Regions from separate parts of the Homo sapiens genome. Here region 1 is linked to region 2. Evidence: fine-mapped expression QTL. Tissue or cell type: whole blood. Region 2 holds a variant in brackets; the other region holds the start of a gene. All regions are shown on one strand. Distances are from middle to middle.

Evidence for each region. PIP is the estimated chance that this variant, and not a neighbour inherited with it, causes the effect.
Region 1: it holds the start of PLXNB1, and the variant in region 2 is fine-mapped to the expression of PLXNB1 in whole blood (TOPMed, PIP 0.99).

The regions. Positions count from the first base shown.
Region 1 is chr3:48,425,150-48,433,249 of GRCh38, forward strand. PLXNB1 (plexin B1) reads right to left here and starts at 4,937. Exons shown (of 38, transcript NM_001130082.3): 1 at 4,859-4,937; 2 at 132-184. CCDC51 (coiled-coil domain containing 51) reads right to left here. Exons shown (of 4, transcript NM_001256964.2): 4 at 7,024-8,017. The coding sequence ends at 7,259. RefSeq lists silencers at 3,891-3,970, 4,051-4,650 and enhancers at 4,891-5,884, 7,238-8,100, 7,554-7,603.
Region 2 is chr3:48,397,292-48,405,391 of GRCh38, forward strand. PLXNB1 (plexin B1) reads right to left here. Exons shown (of 38, transcript NM_001130082.3): 38 at 6,563-7,299. The coding sequence ends at 7,195. Among named protein-coding and RNA genes, the nearest start is that of PLXNB1, 29 kb to the right of the region's middle. The variant C/T (reference allele first, on the strand shown) is at 3,761.

The DNA of each region.
Region 1 (8,100 bases), 28 kb after region 2:
AGGCCTGAGAGATGGGAAGAGGTTCCAGCTCGGAGGGGTGGGGCCTGAAGGGCTGCCCCCCACCTCCGAGAGCCCTCAGAATAGGTAGGAGTCATGCTGCTCCTAGATATCTAGTGTGAGGTCAGGCTCACCTGGCAGGGCCGGCTGGATCAGGAGACAACAGCATGACCCGTGTGGGAGTCACCTAGCAGGCGGGAAAGCCGAGTGTGAAGCCGGGGCCTGGGCTGCAGGCACGTGGAAGCCCTGGGCTCCCCACCGGGGAGGCAGCACAGAAGCACCCCCTCCCCACCGCCCAGCCTGCTGGTGGAGCTGGGCCCAGCCTGGCCCCTGGCCACCAAACACATTCCACAGAGGACGCCTCCTCAGAGCCCACATGAGGAGGGGGAGGGCAGCAGAGCCAGGCACCCGAGGGGCCTGGGAAAGGTCAGCTAGGAAGGAGCCCCGTGGCTGGCAGGGCCCAGCCAGGCCCCCAGCATGGCCTTCTCCCTGTGAGGTCCCTCTCTCTGCTCAAACTCCACCCTGTAAAGGCACCCAGGTACACACCCTCTACACAGCCAGGGGCTGTCCCAGCCCAAAGGGCCACCAGCGCTTCAGCAGACAGGCAGTCGCACAGCAAGATACATACACACCACCCACCCTGTATGTATATGCCTACAACACACACACACACACACACACACACACACAGAGAGAGAGAGATGCAGATGCCATCTATACACACAGCACAGTGACACACACAGACACAGCCACCCATGTTCAAACACCACATGAAGACACATCCATATAGAGACAACTCCCCCACACAGAAACACACTGCAGGCACATATGTCACACTCACCCGAGACATTCAGACCACCACTCACATTTAGACATACACACGCACACTCAGGCACACTCCCCTCGTTTGAGAGTACTTAGTTGGAGCCCTACGTACTAGAGAGCTGTAGAAGCTAGGCCATCTCTTGCTATTTCCTCTCCTGCAGTTCAGAATAGTGCCAGGGCCCAAGATGTGGGGTAAGTGGAGTGTGTCCTGGAGGAAGGTGCCATGCCTGGCTGTTCCCAGGCCCATCCCCAGGACCTCCCCAGACTTTGGGTGCCTGCTTTCCACACAGACCCCTTCTTGGGCCCCAGCTGAGGCTCCTGAGTCCCTGAACCAAGAAACTATGGCAATACCACCTTCCCCAGTGGTCTCTAGCCAGGAGCACCAAGGTTGGTGAAGTGCTGGGACAGACAATGCATCTCAGACTGGGAGACACTTCCCCTACTTGCCTGTGCCCAGGCCACGTTGCCCAGCCCCTCCCATCACCCAGCTGCCAAGCTGTCTGTGCAAAATATCCCAAGCGTTTGCTTCTCCCAGGTCGGCTCATCCTAGCAGATGAGGCCTGAGCAGGGTACTCCTGAGGCTGCCCTGAAGTGAACAGGGCCGGGCACAAGGCTCAGGGGAGGGTCCAGCAGCCTGGTGGAAGCCGGGACACTGTGGCCACAGCCCGGTGGGAGCAGGGGGGCCGTGGTCACAGCCTGGCTGGGCACTGCTCCCGAAATAGCTTGGGGGTTTCCATTTTTAGTGTGCAGAAAACAGGGCAGCTCTATGGGAGCAGGAACAAGGCTGCCTCTGTTAGCCACCCAAGGGGGCGGGGGGAAGGGGGCAGCAGGGAAAGTCTCGAACCCGGCCAGGATCCCAGGACTGTGGCAAGACCAGGCTGCCCAAGAGCCCCCCACCTAGTTTCCAAGGGATGAGGAAAGAAAGTTTCTTCCCATGGGAAGACAGAGTCCACCTGAGGATGGGCAGAGGCCACCTCTTGCAAGGGGCTACTGTTCAATTCTCCTGCCACCGCATGCCAGGGATGGGCCTTGGGCACAGGGTCCCATAGTTAGACCAATACTCACTCCTACATGCTTACAAATATTTGCTCAGAGCCTACTGCGTGCCAAAGTTCTCCAGCCCTCAAGGGGCAGTAACAAAACCACTCCCCATATGTGAAATCAAAACTGCATTGATGCATGACAGAGCCTTGGGAGATGAAAAAATGGTTAAAAACAAAAACAAAAAAAAAACACTGGATGAGGAGACAACAGGAAGAAATGGGCGGGATCAGAACAGCTCCTGGCCAGGCCACTGAGGAGGTCGGCCGCTGACCCACTCCAGGGAAAGTGGTCAGGCTTCTGCCAGCAGTCTCCCTGTGAATCAGGACCTAGCACCCCTTGCCCCTCCACACATACCATGGGTGTCGGAAGGAGGACAGAAAGAAGAGCAGTGACTTTTTCTCCTCCATTTCAGGCACATGGATTTCACTTAATCTCTGCCACAGGCCACTGAGCAGCTCCCAGCCCCTCCAATCTAGCCTCCCAACTCCCAACTTCTCAGGACTTTCCTTGAGCAGAATTGAGTACACCCCTCCCCCAAGAGCCTCTGGGGCACCCCAGAGCGGGAGGGATAAAGGCCTACCCCTCCAGTCCACACCTCTCCCACCCGATCCATGCCAGTGCTCCCCCACACATGCCCTTCGTTCCTGCCAGCCTGAACTGCAGGCTGCTTGGCTCCTCCAACCGCTGCACAGGCTCTTGCCGCTGCCTGGAATGCCCACTCCCTCGCTATCCCATTAACTCCTACACCAACCATCCTCTCCCTGGGGAGCCTCCCCTGTCCTCCCAGGCTCCTGAGGAGGCCGCTGCATGCGGTGGACAGAATGGACACACCTAGCCACCACCCTGACAGGCACGGCCGCTCTGCCTCAGGCTTTCCGAGCCTCAGATTTCCTAGTTGTACAATGGGAGGCAGGATTGCTCTGACCAGTAAACATGAAACAGTGTGTGCCTGGCATTAGTGATGCCAACCAGGGTCACCTTTCTCCCTGTTCCACCCTCCTACTCTGGACTTGAAGCTCCTTGAAGGCAGGGAGTATGGCTTCTGATTCAGAGGCCCCAGCAACTTACACAGACTTCAGCACAGACCAGATGCTCCCTGTATGGTGAACGAACCCCCATTTCACACCCAAGAAAACCCAACAAGTAGGGGAGATAGGGGGCCCACAATCCCTCCAAGCCACTTGGTCTCTCAAAGGGAACACATTGGCCCCACTTTTATTAATGACCAGGCCAGGGCAGACTGAAAAGGCTGATCTAGAACCAGACCTCACATCCCCAACTTACACAGCCAGGATCTCCTGCCCATTCCCAATATCTGAGGCCCTGCTCAGACTCACAGCCAAAGCCTAACTCTGCCTGTGCCCAGTGCTCCCCCACACATGCCCTGGAGTCTCTTCTGGGGCCACCCTACTCTGAACCTTTTCAGGGGGCGCAAGACTGCCCAACTTCTGTCTGTAGAGCAAGCACCTCCCGGACCCCCGTGGAGCTGTCCTCGACAACAAAAGGGGCTCACAAACCCCGCCATTCCGCACCTGCAGAGGGGCCATAGGACAGCCCACATTTGCCTTGCCTGCCAGTTAGTGGGAAACCGGCCTTCCCGTTTCACCCTCCTGCTCAGCTCCCAGGGTTCACTACAGAGGTGAGTTATTCATTGACAGTGCAGTGGTGCCCGCTGCCCGCCCTGTTTTCTGTGTGTTGAGGAGGGGTGGGGAGATCCACCATTTACCAGGCACCTGCGATGACCCAAGGCGCTCATCGATCACCCACTTAATATGTCTGTGTGTGGAGAGGAGGGTCCCCCCCACCCGCCCGGGGGTCAGGAGGCTCGAGGTCCGCCTTTGTCAGTCCCACCGGGAGCAGCCAGAAAGGGCTGTTACTACTGAGGGGAAGCCCCGACCTCCCCACTCGGCTCGTCCTTGACCCTCCCCAACCCCCAGACCCCGAGGCGAGGACCCCATCACTGGCCCTGGGAGGGCGGGGAAGGGGCCGGCCGGTCCCCGGCGGCGACGGCGAGGAGGGGGCGCGGAGGAGCAGCTCCACCTCCTCAGTCTCCCAATCGCGTTCCAGGCGGAGTCGCCAGAGTTTCCCTTCGCGCGGAGAAGTGTGGTCCCAACTCTCAAAACCAAAGCCGCCCACCACTCACCCAGGCCGCCCCTGCCCGGCGGGATCGGGGCCCCGGCCCGTTCCACCTCGGGAGCCCCGTTCCTCGCCGCCCTGGCCCCGAGCCCCGCACTCACCACCCGGCCGGGCCCCGCGGGATGTGCGCGCCGAGGCGGGCGTCGGCCGCTCCGGGCTCGGGCTCCGCGCGCAGCGGCCTCTCCCCGGGTCTGGCGGAGCCGCAGCTGTTACCCGGAGACCGAGGGGCGGAAAACTGCGCCCGCTGCCCGCCCCTCCCGCGCGGCGCTGCCACCGCCGGGAACAAAGGAGACAAAGCCGCGTCGGCCGGGCTCGTCTCCGCTCCTTCCCCCTCGCCTGCCGGGCTGCCCTCCCCCCGCCCGCCGCCCGGGCCAGGCCGGAAGCAGCCCGGAGAGCCGGGCGCGCGGCCCCGAACCGCCCGGGACCCCGCATTCCAGCCCCGCGGGCTCCGCATCGGCCGAGGGCTGGGGACCCGACCCCTCCCGCACGGGGGAGGGCGGGGGCGGGCTGCACCGCGGCGGTCGCCATGGCAACGCGGGTCGCCCGGAGGGGTGAGGAGTGAACCCCGGGAGCCAGAGCCGCCCCGCCCCGTCGGCCTCACCTGCTCGCCTCCTTGGAACCGGAACTGGGAACTTTCCTGGTTGCCAGGAGCCGAGGCGGGGGGTCGCGCTCCGCACCCGCAGGTGCTGGTGGAACAGCGTCCCGGCCTCTTCCCGCCCGTCCAGAGCCGGGTAGCACCCGAGTCCCTCACCAGCCCGACCCGTTCTTCTGCCAGCGCCCGGCCTCGCCCCGCGCCCGGAGCTCCCTTTCCCTTCCTTACCCGGCTCCGGTGGTCATCCTCCCCAACTTTCTTTACCTGAACTCCAAGGCGCCTTGTTTCTCCCCTGCGCACCTGGCCCTGCCCACCGCCCCTGCTCACCGCCCCTGCTCCCACTACTCCCCAACAGCCAATCCCTCCTTCCGGCCCCCACCTCTGGCTGTTTGAGAAGAGCATGGGCTTTGGACCTGGGCTTGCGCCATCAACTAAACCATGTAACCTGACACCAACCCCCCCCAGCCTATTTGCTCACCAGTAAGTGGGGGTGATCCCACCTCTAGCGGGGCTGTGAAGGCAGGGAACCTGGGCTGCAGAGGCGCACAAGCAAGGGCTCACTTCCTTCCTTTCTTCCCAGCCCAGGACCCAGACCTGGACCCACCCCAAGCTGAGAAGCGTTGGGCAAGTCTGGGCTCCCTCACTGGCAAACACCTGGGCCTTCTGCGGGAGGAAACGCTGGCAGAAAGGTTCTCTCCTGGGGACCATTTGTACCCTGTGCAGGGCCCTTCACACCCTGGCATGCCCACGGCTAACTCAGGACCAGAACCTGGCCCATCCTATTAGGACTTTTGGAGGACTTTGGCTCAAAGCCATTGGCACAGCTTCCTGGGAGGCAAAAACGTCACAGGCATCATCTGAAAGCCTCCAAGGCCTCCACAGGCTAGGGGAGCCTCAATCAGGAGGTTCAGGTCATCCACACTGGCTACTGCCCTAGAGCTAGAGACACCCTCTTCCCACCTCCCACCAGCTATCAAGGGTCTCCTGTCAGGTCACCCCTTTTCCTCCACTCCCACTTCCAGCACCTGAGTCCAGGTGCTTAGCACCTTGTCTGCACCAGCATAGCAATCCCTCCCTGGATCCCTCACCCTTAGCCTCTGACCTCAGACTGCCAACCTGGCACCCCGGGCCTGTGACATCATTCTGCACAACTCCCCCACACCCATCACCACCCCAGCCAGGACAGTCTGCCCCAGTCCCTCACCCACTTTGGCTTTCCTGCCTATGTAGCTTGTAGCAGCCCCCTCCACATGCACAGAATCCCTCCCTCCCCAAATCCATTCATCCAAGCACACACTTCAGGACCTATCTCACCCCAGAGGAAACTGGGACTTCCAAACCCCACAACCCCTTTCATCTGTACACAGATACGCTACCTCCTGCCCTACAAGGAATGTGAACACTCTAAGCACAGGGGTCTTTCCATCCCATGCCATTCTGGGGAGCCATTACTCGCCAAGGATAGATTGACTGAGGGACCAGGTGCTGAGAACCTGGGGTGGGGGGCATTTGGGCCATGCTCACTGCCCAAGACTGAACACAGGCTCCAAGAAGAAAGTATGCCTTATGGGAAACACTCCTGACTCCACAGGCTCTGAGAGCTCTGCACAGGCACCAGTGAACGAGTCCCCACCTGCGGCCCCCCTGCATATAGCTACCCTGCGCTCTCAAAGGGGAGTGGGTTCTCTGGAATGTGCCTGACTTCCAATACTCCAACACCAGGACTGAATACCAGCCCAAAGCTCCTGTTTACTCAGGGCACACAAGGCCACCCATGGCCATTTAGTCAAGGTCAAGGGTCACTGTTCCCCTCTGAAAAGAGATCATACATATGCCCCACTGCACCTCCCACCTGTGGGAGACCCCCCCCTCCCTATCACTGCCTCTCCATGCACACTCCCGGTGTCCTGAGCTCTGCCTATGCCTGTGGAAGATATCCCCGGGCTGTGTGGGGGTGTGCACCCAGCCCCCGTGGCACACCACTGCTGCCCAAAGCAATCTCTGTACCAGGGATCCAGACTGGCCACCAATCCCTATACTTATGTCCCCAGCAACATTTATCAACCATTCTCCCAATCTCCCTTCCCTGCTCTCCTCTGATCACTCCTCCAGTACTAGAACCAGGAAGTTCTCCCCCACATGGTAGAGAAAGTGATCCAGGAGATGGGAAGCAACCATGGTCACGAAATGAGTAGGCAGCAGGCTAGGTTCCACTCACTGGAACTCCCAGGCCATCTGACACCGGACAGTCAGGTAACTGGAGGAAATCCAAAATGAAAATCTAGGCCTCAGGAGTGCATCCATAACAGTTCAGAAAAGAGGACAGAGAGGAGATGAGAGAGGAACTAAAGGGGGTGACTACCCCAACTCCAGGCCCAACCTTCAAGTCTTGGATCTTGATTCTTAATGAAAAAAACTCAGTCTGATTGTTTTAAATAATAAAACTCAGGATATTTTAATTGGACATTAGCACAAAGTTTTGATAATTAATGTAAATGAACCTTGTCTACAAAGCGAAGCATGCCTGCTGGTGAGCCACACAGATACTGCTCCTTCAGATTGAGGTTGTACATGCCCCCAAAGGCTCGCTTCATTGCTACGATTCTCTACTTAAATCCACATTCACAGCTATTGCCTCAGACCCTCTGGAGGAGGGGCCAGGGGTTAGCTGGCTTTGAATAGCATGTAGAGCACAGGCAGTGTGGCCACAAATGTCACACAGGTGACCAGGGTGCTATAGATGGTGTTCCTGTTGACTTGGGCTTCTAGTCTCTGCTCCGTGTCTGACAGTGCCAAGATCATGCTCCCCTGCTCCAGCAAGAAGCTGGGCATAGCCCCGTCTGCTGGTTCCACCAGGCCTGGGTGTGCTGCAGACTTTACAAGCTGAACCACCCCAGCCATTTGGCTACAAGTCTTTTCTAGGCCATCAAGCTGCTCTCGTAAGCCTTCTAGACATGAATGGACTTGCCTGGAATGACTAAGCTGCTCTTTCAAGGCAGCTGAAAGGACATCTACATCTCTGTCTCTGGTCGGGGGACTACCTGCCTGTGACCCAGAGTCCTGCCCTGGCCCAGCAGCATGTACCAGGCCCCTCAGGTCCACCATGAGATTGTGGAGGTCCCTCTGCTGGCGGGAGTAGCTAGACGCCTGTTCTCGAATGGCCTCTTGGAGACTCACAGGCCCCTTCTGCGCCTCCAGGAGTAAAGCCTTCAGCTCCTGTAGTCGCACACGGTTCACATAGGTGGAGCCAGCCACACCAATCAGGGCCCCCAGGACTGAGCCAATGAGGGACCAGTTCTTGGTCCTCTCAGCCCTTGTGCGCTCCTTCTCATGACTTTCCCGCACAGCTGCAGAGAAGAGGGAGAACTTCTCTCGCTCAGAGTCTTCTGCACGCAGATAGGCTGTGCGAAGCCTCTTCTCCTCCTGCAGAAGCAAAGCCATGTTATTGGATTACATGGGCACAAGGTGGCCCTGCAGCTATAGCCACCAGCAGATGGCTCACTACC
Region 2 (8,100 bases):
TGCAGTGGTGCAATCTTGACTCACTGCAGCCTCAACCTCCCAGGCTCATGTGATCCTCCCACCTCAGCCTCCTGAGTAACTGGGATTACAGGTATGCACCAACACCCCTGGCTAATTTTTGTTTTTTTTTTTGTAGAGACAGGGTTTTGCCATGCTTCCCAGGCTGGTCTCGAACTCCTGGGCTCAAGAAATTATCCCACCACAGCCTCTCAAAGTGCTGGGATTACAGGCATGTGCCACTGTGCCTGGCCCCTCAATAATTTCTTAAAGGAAATTACCACATGAGAATTTACACAATGGACACTGAACATCATTCAAACAGGAAATGTAGACTTTAAGGCAGGAAGTATTATTAGAAATAAAAACGAATTTTTTATGACAAAAAGATCAAAACAGAGATAATAAAATTTAAAATATATATGCATGCCTTGCTTCAAATATAGGATCCAAAAGTTGACAGAGTTAAAAGGAGAAATGGGCACAGCCATGGGAGGTGTGAGAAGGGAGCCAGTGGGAAAGCAAAAGACTGAAGAACAAGGAGACTGGGGTGGGGAGTAAGAAGCAAAGAAGGACCTGGGCTTGGCTGGTCCTCCAAGGGACCCAGGGACCCGGTCCAATCATGGACTGAGGACATGGGCTCAGGAGGTGGACTGAGGCCCCCGGAGAGAGCGGCAGGGTGGGAGGTGTAACCTGCACAGCATGGAGCAGTGGGAGCCTGGGGTTCCATCTGGAGACATGGGTTCTAGTCCCACTTGCTGTGTTTTTGGGGCATGTCACTCCATCTCCCTGGGTTCAGCCTCCCCAGGGAAGGACACTCTCTCCACCCTTCCCCAGCCTGGCCCTCACAAACGATGATGCCAAAGCAGTATCCTTCATGTGTGGGGTTAGCGATAGGGCCGCTGGCCAGAGAGAAGATAGAGGCAGGGCCTCTGGCATTGTGTGGAGCCTGGATCTTGCTCTGCAGTCTGGGAGAACCCTGGGCATGGGAGGAAGAGCCAAGAAACCTCTCAGGCTGGATGACAGCCTCTGGGGGCTCACACCGTCCTCTACCCTAGGAGAGGCCAGGGCAAGGTGTGCACCCTGCTGCTGTGCACCTTCTCCTTGTCCTCCTCTGAGGCCTCAGGCAGTCGCCCAGTTGGGTCACTCTTCACCAGGGTTAGGCCTGGCACCTTGGCATGGAGGGCCAGCTCTTGCCCACAGGCTCTAGAGGCCCTGAGGGTCACCAGGGCCCTTCCCCCTCCCGTGACAGCTTGCACAGGATGCTGTCTTTGGAAAGGTGGTTAGGGACTCACACCTTACAGAAGAGGAACCAGAAGCTTGGAAAAGATGACTGTTCCTAGGTGGTCAGTGCCAGGGCCTGGCCAAAGCCCACTTCTCAAGCTCCAAGTCCATGGGGTGTTCCACCAGAACATCATTCCCCATTGAGCAGAGCCTCTGCCTGTCCCCAATGCTACACACACACTTCAAACATATACATCAAACACACAGACACACACACACACAGAGTTCTGCTGCCTCCACTCCAGTCAGCAACCTGGGCTGGGCGCAGGCGCGAGGGTTTGTCTCTGCGTGGGGGCTTGGGAGTGCCCCACACACATTTCTTTGGGTGTAGAGAACCAGGCGTCCTGCCCCTCCCCCAGCTCCGGATGGGTCTGTGCCTGGCCCTGCTGACTTCTGCCCTGAGATGAAGCTGTAGACACAGCCTGTAGTGTGGAGTCTTCCTTGGGTCCCTATTTGCACACCCAGCATCCCACCCAACCTGGAGATAAGGTGAAGAGGCCCAGTCAGCCCCCAAAATTTGGTGTTTCCAAGGTCCTTCAGGTGGACAGTGCAGCACCGCCCAAGGAGCACTAGGGCATGGAGTGCGGTGGAAAATTCTGCAAGCCAGGGGGCTGGAAACCAAGTACTGCTATGGCCGTGACCTTGTGGCCTTGAATGACAAAGCACCTGCTAGGTGCCTCCCAGGACAGCAGGTCCTCAGGCCAGAGGCAGTTTTCTGCCCACTTCTTCACCACTCAGCAGTCCAGAGGCTGCCCTGCCATTCAGGCTCCCCTGCCCTCTGGCTTTCAGGTGGCTTGGCCAACGGGACGGGCTGGCAGGAGTCTGGGCAGTGGGGAGGAACAAGAGGCCAGGGTAATTATTCCCCCAGCATCCTCCCTCTGAAGCTTCCACCTTTAGCCACAGCCCCACTGGTCCTGATGACTACTCTGTCCCTACCCCTAGAGCCCAGGACTGGTAACAGCTGTGCTTCACCATCCCTTATTGGCTTCCCAGAGCCTGCAGCTCTGTAAGTAGTCCCCTCATTAAACTCTCTTCCAGCTGCATCTTTCCTGGTACATGCTGTCAGTTTCCTGCCAGGAGCTGGACTGATCCAGCACTTGATAAATGTTTCTTCATTAAATCCTGCCAGGTGCCAGCTTGGGATCCAACCCCATGACACAGAGTGGCTCCTGCCACATGCCAGAATGTCCCTGCCCTTCTCTCCAGAGGCCCAGTCAGTGAGAGGAGGAGGAACTAGAATCCAGGTCTCCTGCCTCCCAGAGCAAGGCTCCTGTCACTCCACTCCCTGGGGCTTCTTGGGCCTGAGATCTTGAGGCAAGTCTGGTGGTGGAGGAGGTCTTGAGCAAGACAGGCTTGAATCCTCTCTTCCTGGTGGCACCCATTCACTAGGGCAGCAGGTGCCCCAGCAGCACCAACTCACCAGCATGGGTGGAGGGGCCAGGTTAGCAGGTTCCCAGGCACCTGCAGCGTCAGCCAGCATGCAGCTCCTGGCTTCCCACGGGCGCCACTGACTCAGCAGTCAGAGGCTGTGGGTAACACTGCTGCCCCCTTTGCCAGCTTATAGGTGACAGAGGCTTCTATAGTCACTCACCGCTGGATAACTACTCCCCTTTTTGTCCTTCACACACTTTCATAATCAATCCCTTATATTTAAATTCCTTCCATTGGAAACACCTAGAGTGGTTTCTGGTTTTTTGTTGTTGTTGTTGTTGTTTTCTTTTTGAGACAGAGTCTCATTCTGCTGCTCAGGCTGGAGTGTGGTGGCATAATCTCAGCTCAGGCTGGAGTGTGGTGGCATAATCTCAGCTCAGGCTGGAGTGTGGTGGCATAATCTCAGCTCACTGAAACCTCTGCCTCCCAGGTTCAAGTGATTTTCCTTCCTCAGCCTCCCCAGTAGCTGGGATCACAGGTGCACACAATCACACCCGGCTAATTTCTGTATTTTCAGTAGAGATGGGGTTTCACCATGTTGATCAGGGTGGTCTCGAACTCCTGACCTCAAGTGATCCACCCACCTTGGCCTCCCAAAGTGCTGGGATTACAGGTGTGAGCCACTGTGCCCGGCTGTTTTCTTGACTAGTCACTCACTGTTATCTCAACTATGTCCTAAGACATAGCTCACCCTAAAACCAGAATTCACGTTAAAGACAGGGTAAGATTACTCACTAAGCTCCAGCACTACTGAATTCCACTGTTGTGATTTCTCTCTCTCTTTTTTTGAAGAGACAGGGTCTCACTGTCACCCAGTCTGGAGTGGAGTGGCATAATCTTTCACTGCAGCCTCAAACTCCTGGAGTCCAGCAATCCTCCCACCTCAACCTCTTAAATAGCTGAGACTACAGATGTGTGCTACCATGCCCAGCTAATTTTTAAACAGTTTTCGTAAAGATGGGGTCTGGCTATCTTGCCCAGGCTTGCAATTTATAGAGCTCCAGACACCCTCATTGGTAGCTGCTTCTGATAAATTCCACACTATGGC[C/T]AGAAGATGGCAGCAAACCACCAGCTTCAGCCACTTACCTGTGGCCCAGGACACCGGACCAGGTTTCCAAAATCTGAGCTTCACATTCCTAGACCTCCAGAGGTTCTCTTCATGGCCACCTGGACAACTGGCAAACCATTCTGTTTCCTTACACGTGCACATATCATCCAGATAACTGAAACTCTTATCAATAAAACCCCAACATCACAACCAGGGCATAAATTCTCTTTCAAACATCATGGTGATATCCTTATCTTAGATTTTTGGTAAACATTTGGAATTGGATAAACCATCATCCTTAATTAAGACAGAGAACACTTTTTTTTTTTTTTTTTTGAGATGGAGTTTTGCTCGTCACCCAGGCTGGAGTGCAGTGGCGCGATCTCGACTCAGTGCAACCTCCGCCTCCCGGGTTCAAGCGATTCTCCTGTCTCAGCCTCCTGAGTAGCTGGGATGAGAGGCGCCCGCCACCACACCTGGCTAATTTTTTGTATTTTTAGAAGAGACGGGGTTTTGCCATGTTGGGCAGGCTGGTCTCAAACTCCTGACCTCAGATGATCCGCCTGCCTCGGCCTCCCAAAGTGTTGGGATTACAGGGGTGAGCCACTGCGCCTGGCCGACAGAACACTTTTAAAGAGAGATCCATAAAACATCGCCAGTCAGCTGACCTAGGTAGTTTGGGGTGTATTTGTTCTTCAATGTGGCATCCTTAGGGAACCTGGTGGAGGAAACACATGCATCAGCAGCCATTGGTGCCAAGCAGAACACAGCTAGGTTCCCTGTATCCCCCAGCACCACCCAGAGTCACCTGTTGGCACTGGCCAGTGGGATCCAGGTCCTGACCATTTGGAAGGTTTCAGGTGGCTTCTAAGAATTCCAACATTCATCAGCATAAATTCAGCTGTTATCTTAATTAGCACGATTATTTCAGTATCAGAAAATTAATAAAAATATAGAACTCCTGGGTCATGTAACCATTTGGACAATTATTCCAACTTTTAAGTTGGTGAAAACGCTTTTTAATAAAGCACATCACTCCATAAAACGCCTTAAGGAGCCCCGGGTGGTAATGAGAAACAAAGGCCCTTTGTATGCTAACAGGTTTGTGAAAAATGTAATAATGAGGGCACACTTTCGTTGCAGTCTTAATAAAAATTAGGAAAAGATTGATCAAACTGAATTACAAATGTTCTATGCTGAAATTGTGGTCATGACCCAAGTTAAGCGATCACAAATTCTTGCTGGTGTTGGAATCTCCATTCTTGGTCATGGTTTGGAGTGAAGACAGAATTTCCTATCTTCTTGTGCCAGGTTTTTCTTCTCTATGTCTGTTATTATAACAATGTTCTGTGGCGGCTGAGCCATGACTCAGTGAGTGACTCAAAGCACGTTCAGTACTCACCCCTCCCGCGGGCACGTGCCCAGGCTTGCAGGCACATGGCCCCCCTCTCCCGGGAGCCTTCACCTACCCCTAAAACCTGCAGGGGCCTGAACCTGGAACAGAGAGGCCTCTGGAACAGAGGCATGGCTCTGTCGAGGTCTGTGGTGCTGACCAAGGCTGCTTCCCTCTGTGTCTGCTTGAAGTCCACCCTCAAGTGGATTTCCCATCCACCCTGCTCCCAGAGATGGTCAAGATGGAGACCCATTCCATGGTCTCCAACGGGAAAAGTCAGGACCATTCTGGGTGGCTATGAAAACCTGGCCAGAGCATCCAAGCTCACATGCTCCCAAATGATGGCACCTGGCTGCTGACCTGACTGTGGTCCCCACATCCGGCAGAAATGGGAAAGAAGGGACAATGGAGCCACAGCGAAGAATAGCAGCTATGACTACCCCCGGCACAGACAAGACCAACATGGCTCCTTAGGGACAAGGACTTTGTGGATTGTAGGGGCAACCCTACAGTGGATGGCTTTATTTAGGGCCAAAAAAAGGCAGGGGATAGGAGTCCTCCTGGAATTCTATCAGTCTGTCTCTCTCTAAACACTCAATGAAGACCTCGAGGGGAGGTTGTGGTCTCTGTGCCAGACGAGAGGAAATGCTAAGGGTCACTGGGTTATGGAGGATAAGCAGAGGGCCAAAGGGATGATCCCTCTGAAGGCCTCAAGGCTGAAGGGCCTTCCTCTCATCTGCCAGGCAGAGCTGCCACCCTATCTCTTCTGTTCCATGGGGGGCTGGCCTTCTGCTAAGGCCGAGGGTGGTCTCAAGTCAAGAGGAGTATCAACCCCCTGCCCTACAGACCCAACTAGCAACATGAGACCAGATAAGACAGTCTCCAAGCTCACCTCCAGGTACAAATCAGGAAGAACCATATAAGGCGGCCTTCATGGAGGCAGACAGTTTAGGAGCCGGCCCTAGGATGCCCTGATTTGGAAGGCAACACAGAAACCCTAAGTCCAGGAACAGGACCATGGAAAATGGCCCTCGAGACCCCCTCTGCCTAGAGTTGCCTGTAATTATGTCATCCTTTCCTAGTCCCTTTCAAGATAAATAGAACATGAGTGGAGAAGTGAGAATACGCAAACTGCAGATAAAGCAGGCCCCCTTGAAGAGACTGTAGACCCCTCTATCTCGGTCACCCGCCCTGCCCCAGATGGGGTTCTTCCTTCACGGAAGCTTTGACCCCACCAGACCCTGCCCAGGCGTCAAGGAGAGCCTCAGCCAGCCCTGCAGTCTGGGATATGATGGGGAACCATGAGACTCCCCAAGAGTATAGATACCACCTCCCCCTGGTACCTGCTGGGCATAGCTGCCGTCCTCCTAGTAGCCAGGGGCTAGGCCGGGCTCACACATCAGACTCAGTGCAGTGTGTTATCCTTTAATGAAAAGCTGGGTCAATGGAGTCACCACTCTCCCCAAGACCCCCCTGCAGCAGATAGCCCTCACCATGGCTACCTATGAGGCAGGGCAGCCCTGTGGCAGCCAGCCCTGCTGAGGGGTCAGTTTGTAGTGGCCTAGGAGAGGCGTTCAACTCTTAGACCTAGGATGTGGCAGCAGCAACAAGGCCAGAGGCAGCTCAACTGAGGTCAGGGATGGTGGAGGAGGCAGACAGGAAGCATGGGGCTCTCCTCCTTCCTCTCCGAATCCCAGTGTGGCCAAGGCCAGTGTTCAGGAACAGTACAGTCTCCCCAGGGGCCTGGAGTCTCTTCCAGCCACTCTCTGGAAGCCCTTAGTCCCCAACTCCCTGCAGACCGGTGTCACAGGGTCGCTGGACTCGGGGAGCAGGCTGGGTACTACCCCATGAGCCTTGAGGCCCCGGGTCTAGGAGGTGGATCCAGCAGGGCCGAGGCCAGAGCCACCAGGAGACTGGGAGTCACCTTCCACTAACTCTGCTTGTCAGTCACTACAGGCACCTAAGAAGGTGGCCTCTCCTCCGAGCTTCCAGGGCTGCCCAGGCCAGGCTGAAGCAACAGCAGGCCGTGGCTCCTGGGTTCCTATAGATCTGTGACCTTGTTTTCCACAGCAGCTGCAATCTGCTGGAGCCGATAGCCCAGCTGCATCTTCTGGGCCGTGCCATCCTCCTCCAGGGCAGTGATGATCTGAAACAGAGACCAATGCCATCAGGGGAGACTTCTTTGGCCAACGTGTTTGCTGCAAAATTCAACAGCCCTCCTAAGACGCTGTGGCATGAGTGGGGTAGGAGGCCAAGAAACCCAGCCGGTCACTTCACGTACTTTCTGGGACCTCAGGGCCTCGCTGGCGGGAGGGGTAATAACATCAAAGTCACCGCGGGGTTCCAGGATGAATAAGGTAGGAAATGAAGGACCTGACTCAGTAGCGAGCTCCTCAGAAGCCCTGCTGCAGCCATCCTGGCTAACCCACCCGCCAGCCAACAGTATTTCCCAAGTTCCTGTCTGCCCGGTGCCAGACAAGGGGCAGAGACCCAAGAATGACCAGACACGTGGTGGGAAAACAGACACTGATCAAACACGAACCACGAATTTGGGGCTGCCACCAAGGGAACCGGTAGGAACCGGAGGGCAGCAGCACTTGGGAAAACAGCTACTGCCCACTATGTCTCCACAAGGGGACATGCCTGCATCACACCCTGCCTCCCCCAAGCCCCGTGCCATGGCCCACACCATGCCGAGGAAGGCTGTGGGCCATGAGACAGGTTCCTCATCTCTGAGCAGCAATAGCCATGTCACTGGTGCCACACAAACATCTAAGTGGACTATTCCACCAGGCATCCAGCAGGTTGACTGGCAGGTGCTCAGCTCTTCAGGCACAGCCCAGGGATCCTCCAAAAAGCTTCACCAGCTCCAGTGTACCCTCACACCCCTGGCCCTGTGCCTGGACTCTCCTCTTCGCAGCTCATGCAGCCAAGCCAGGCCTGCACT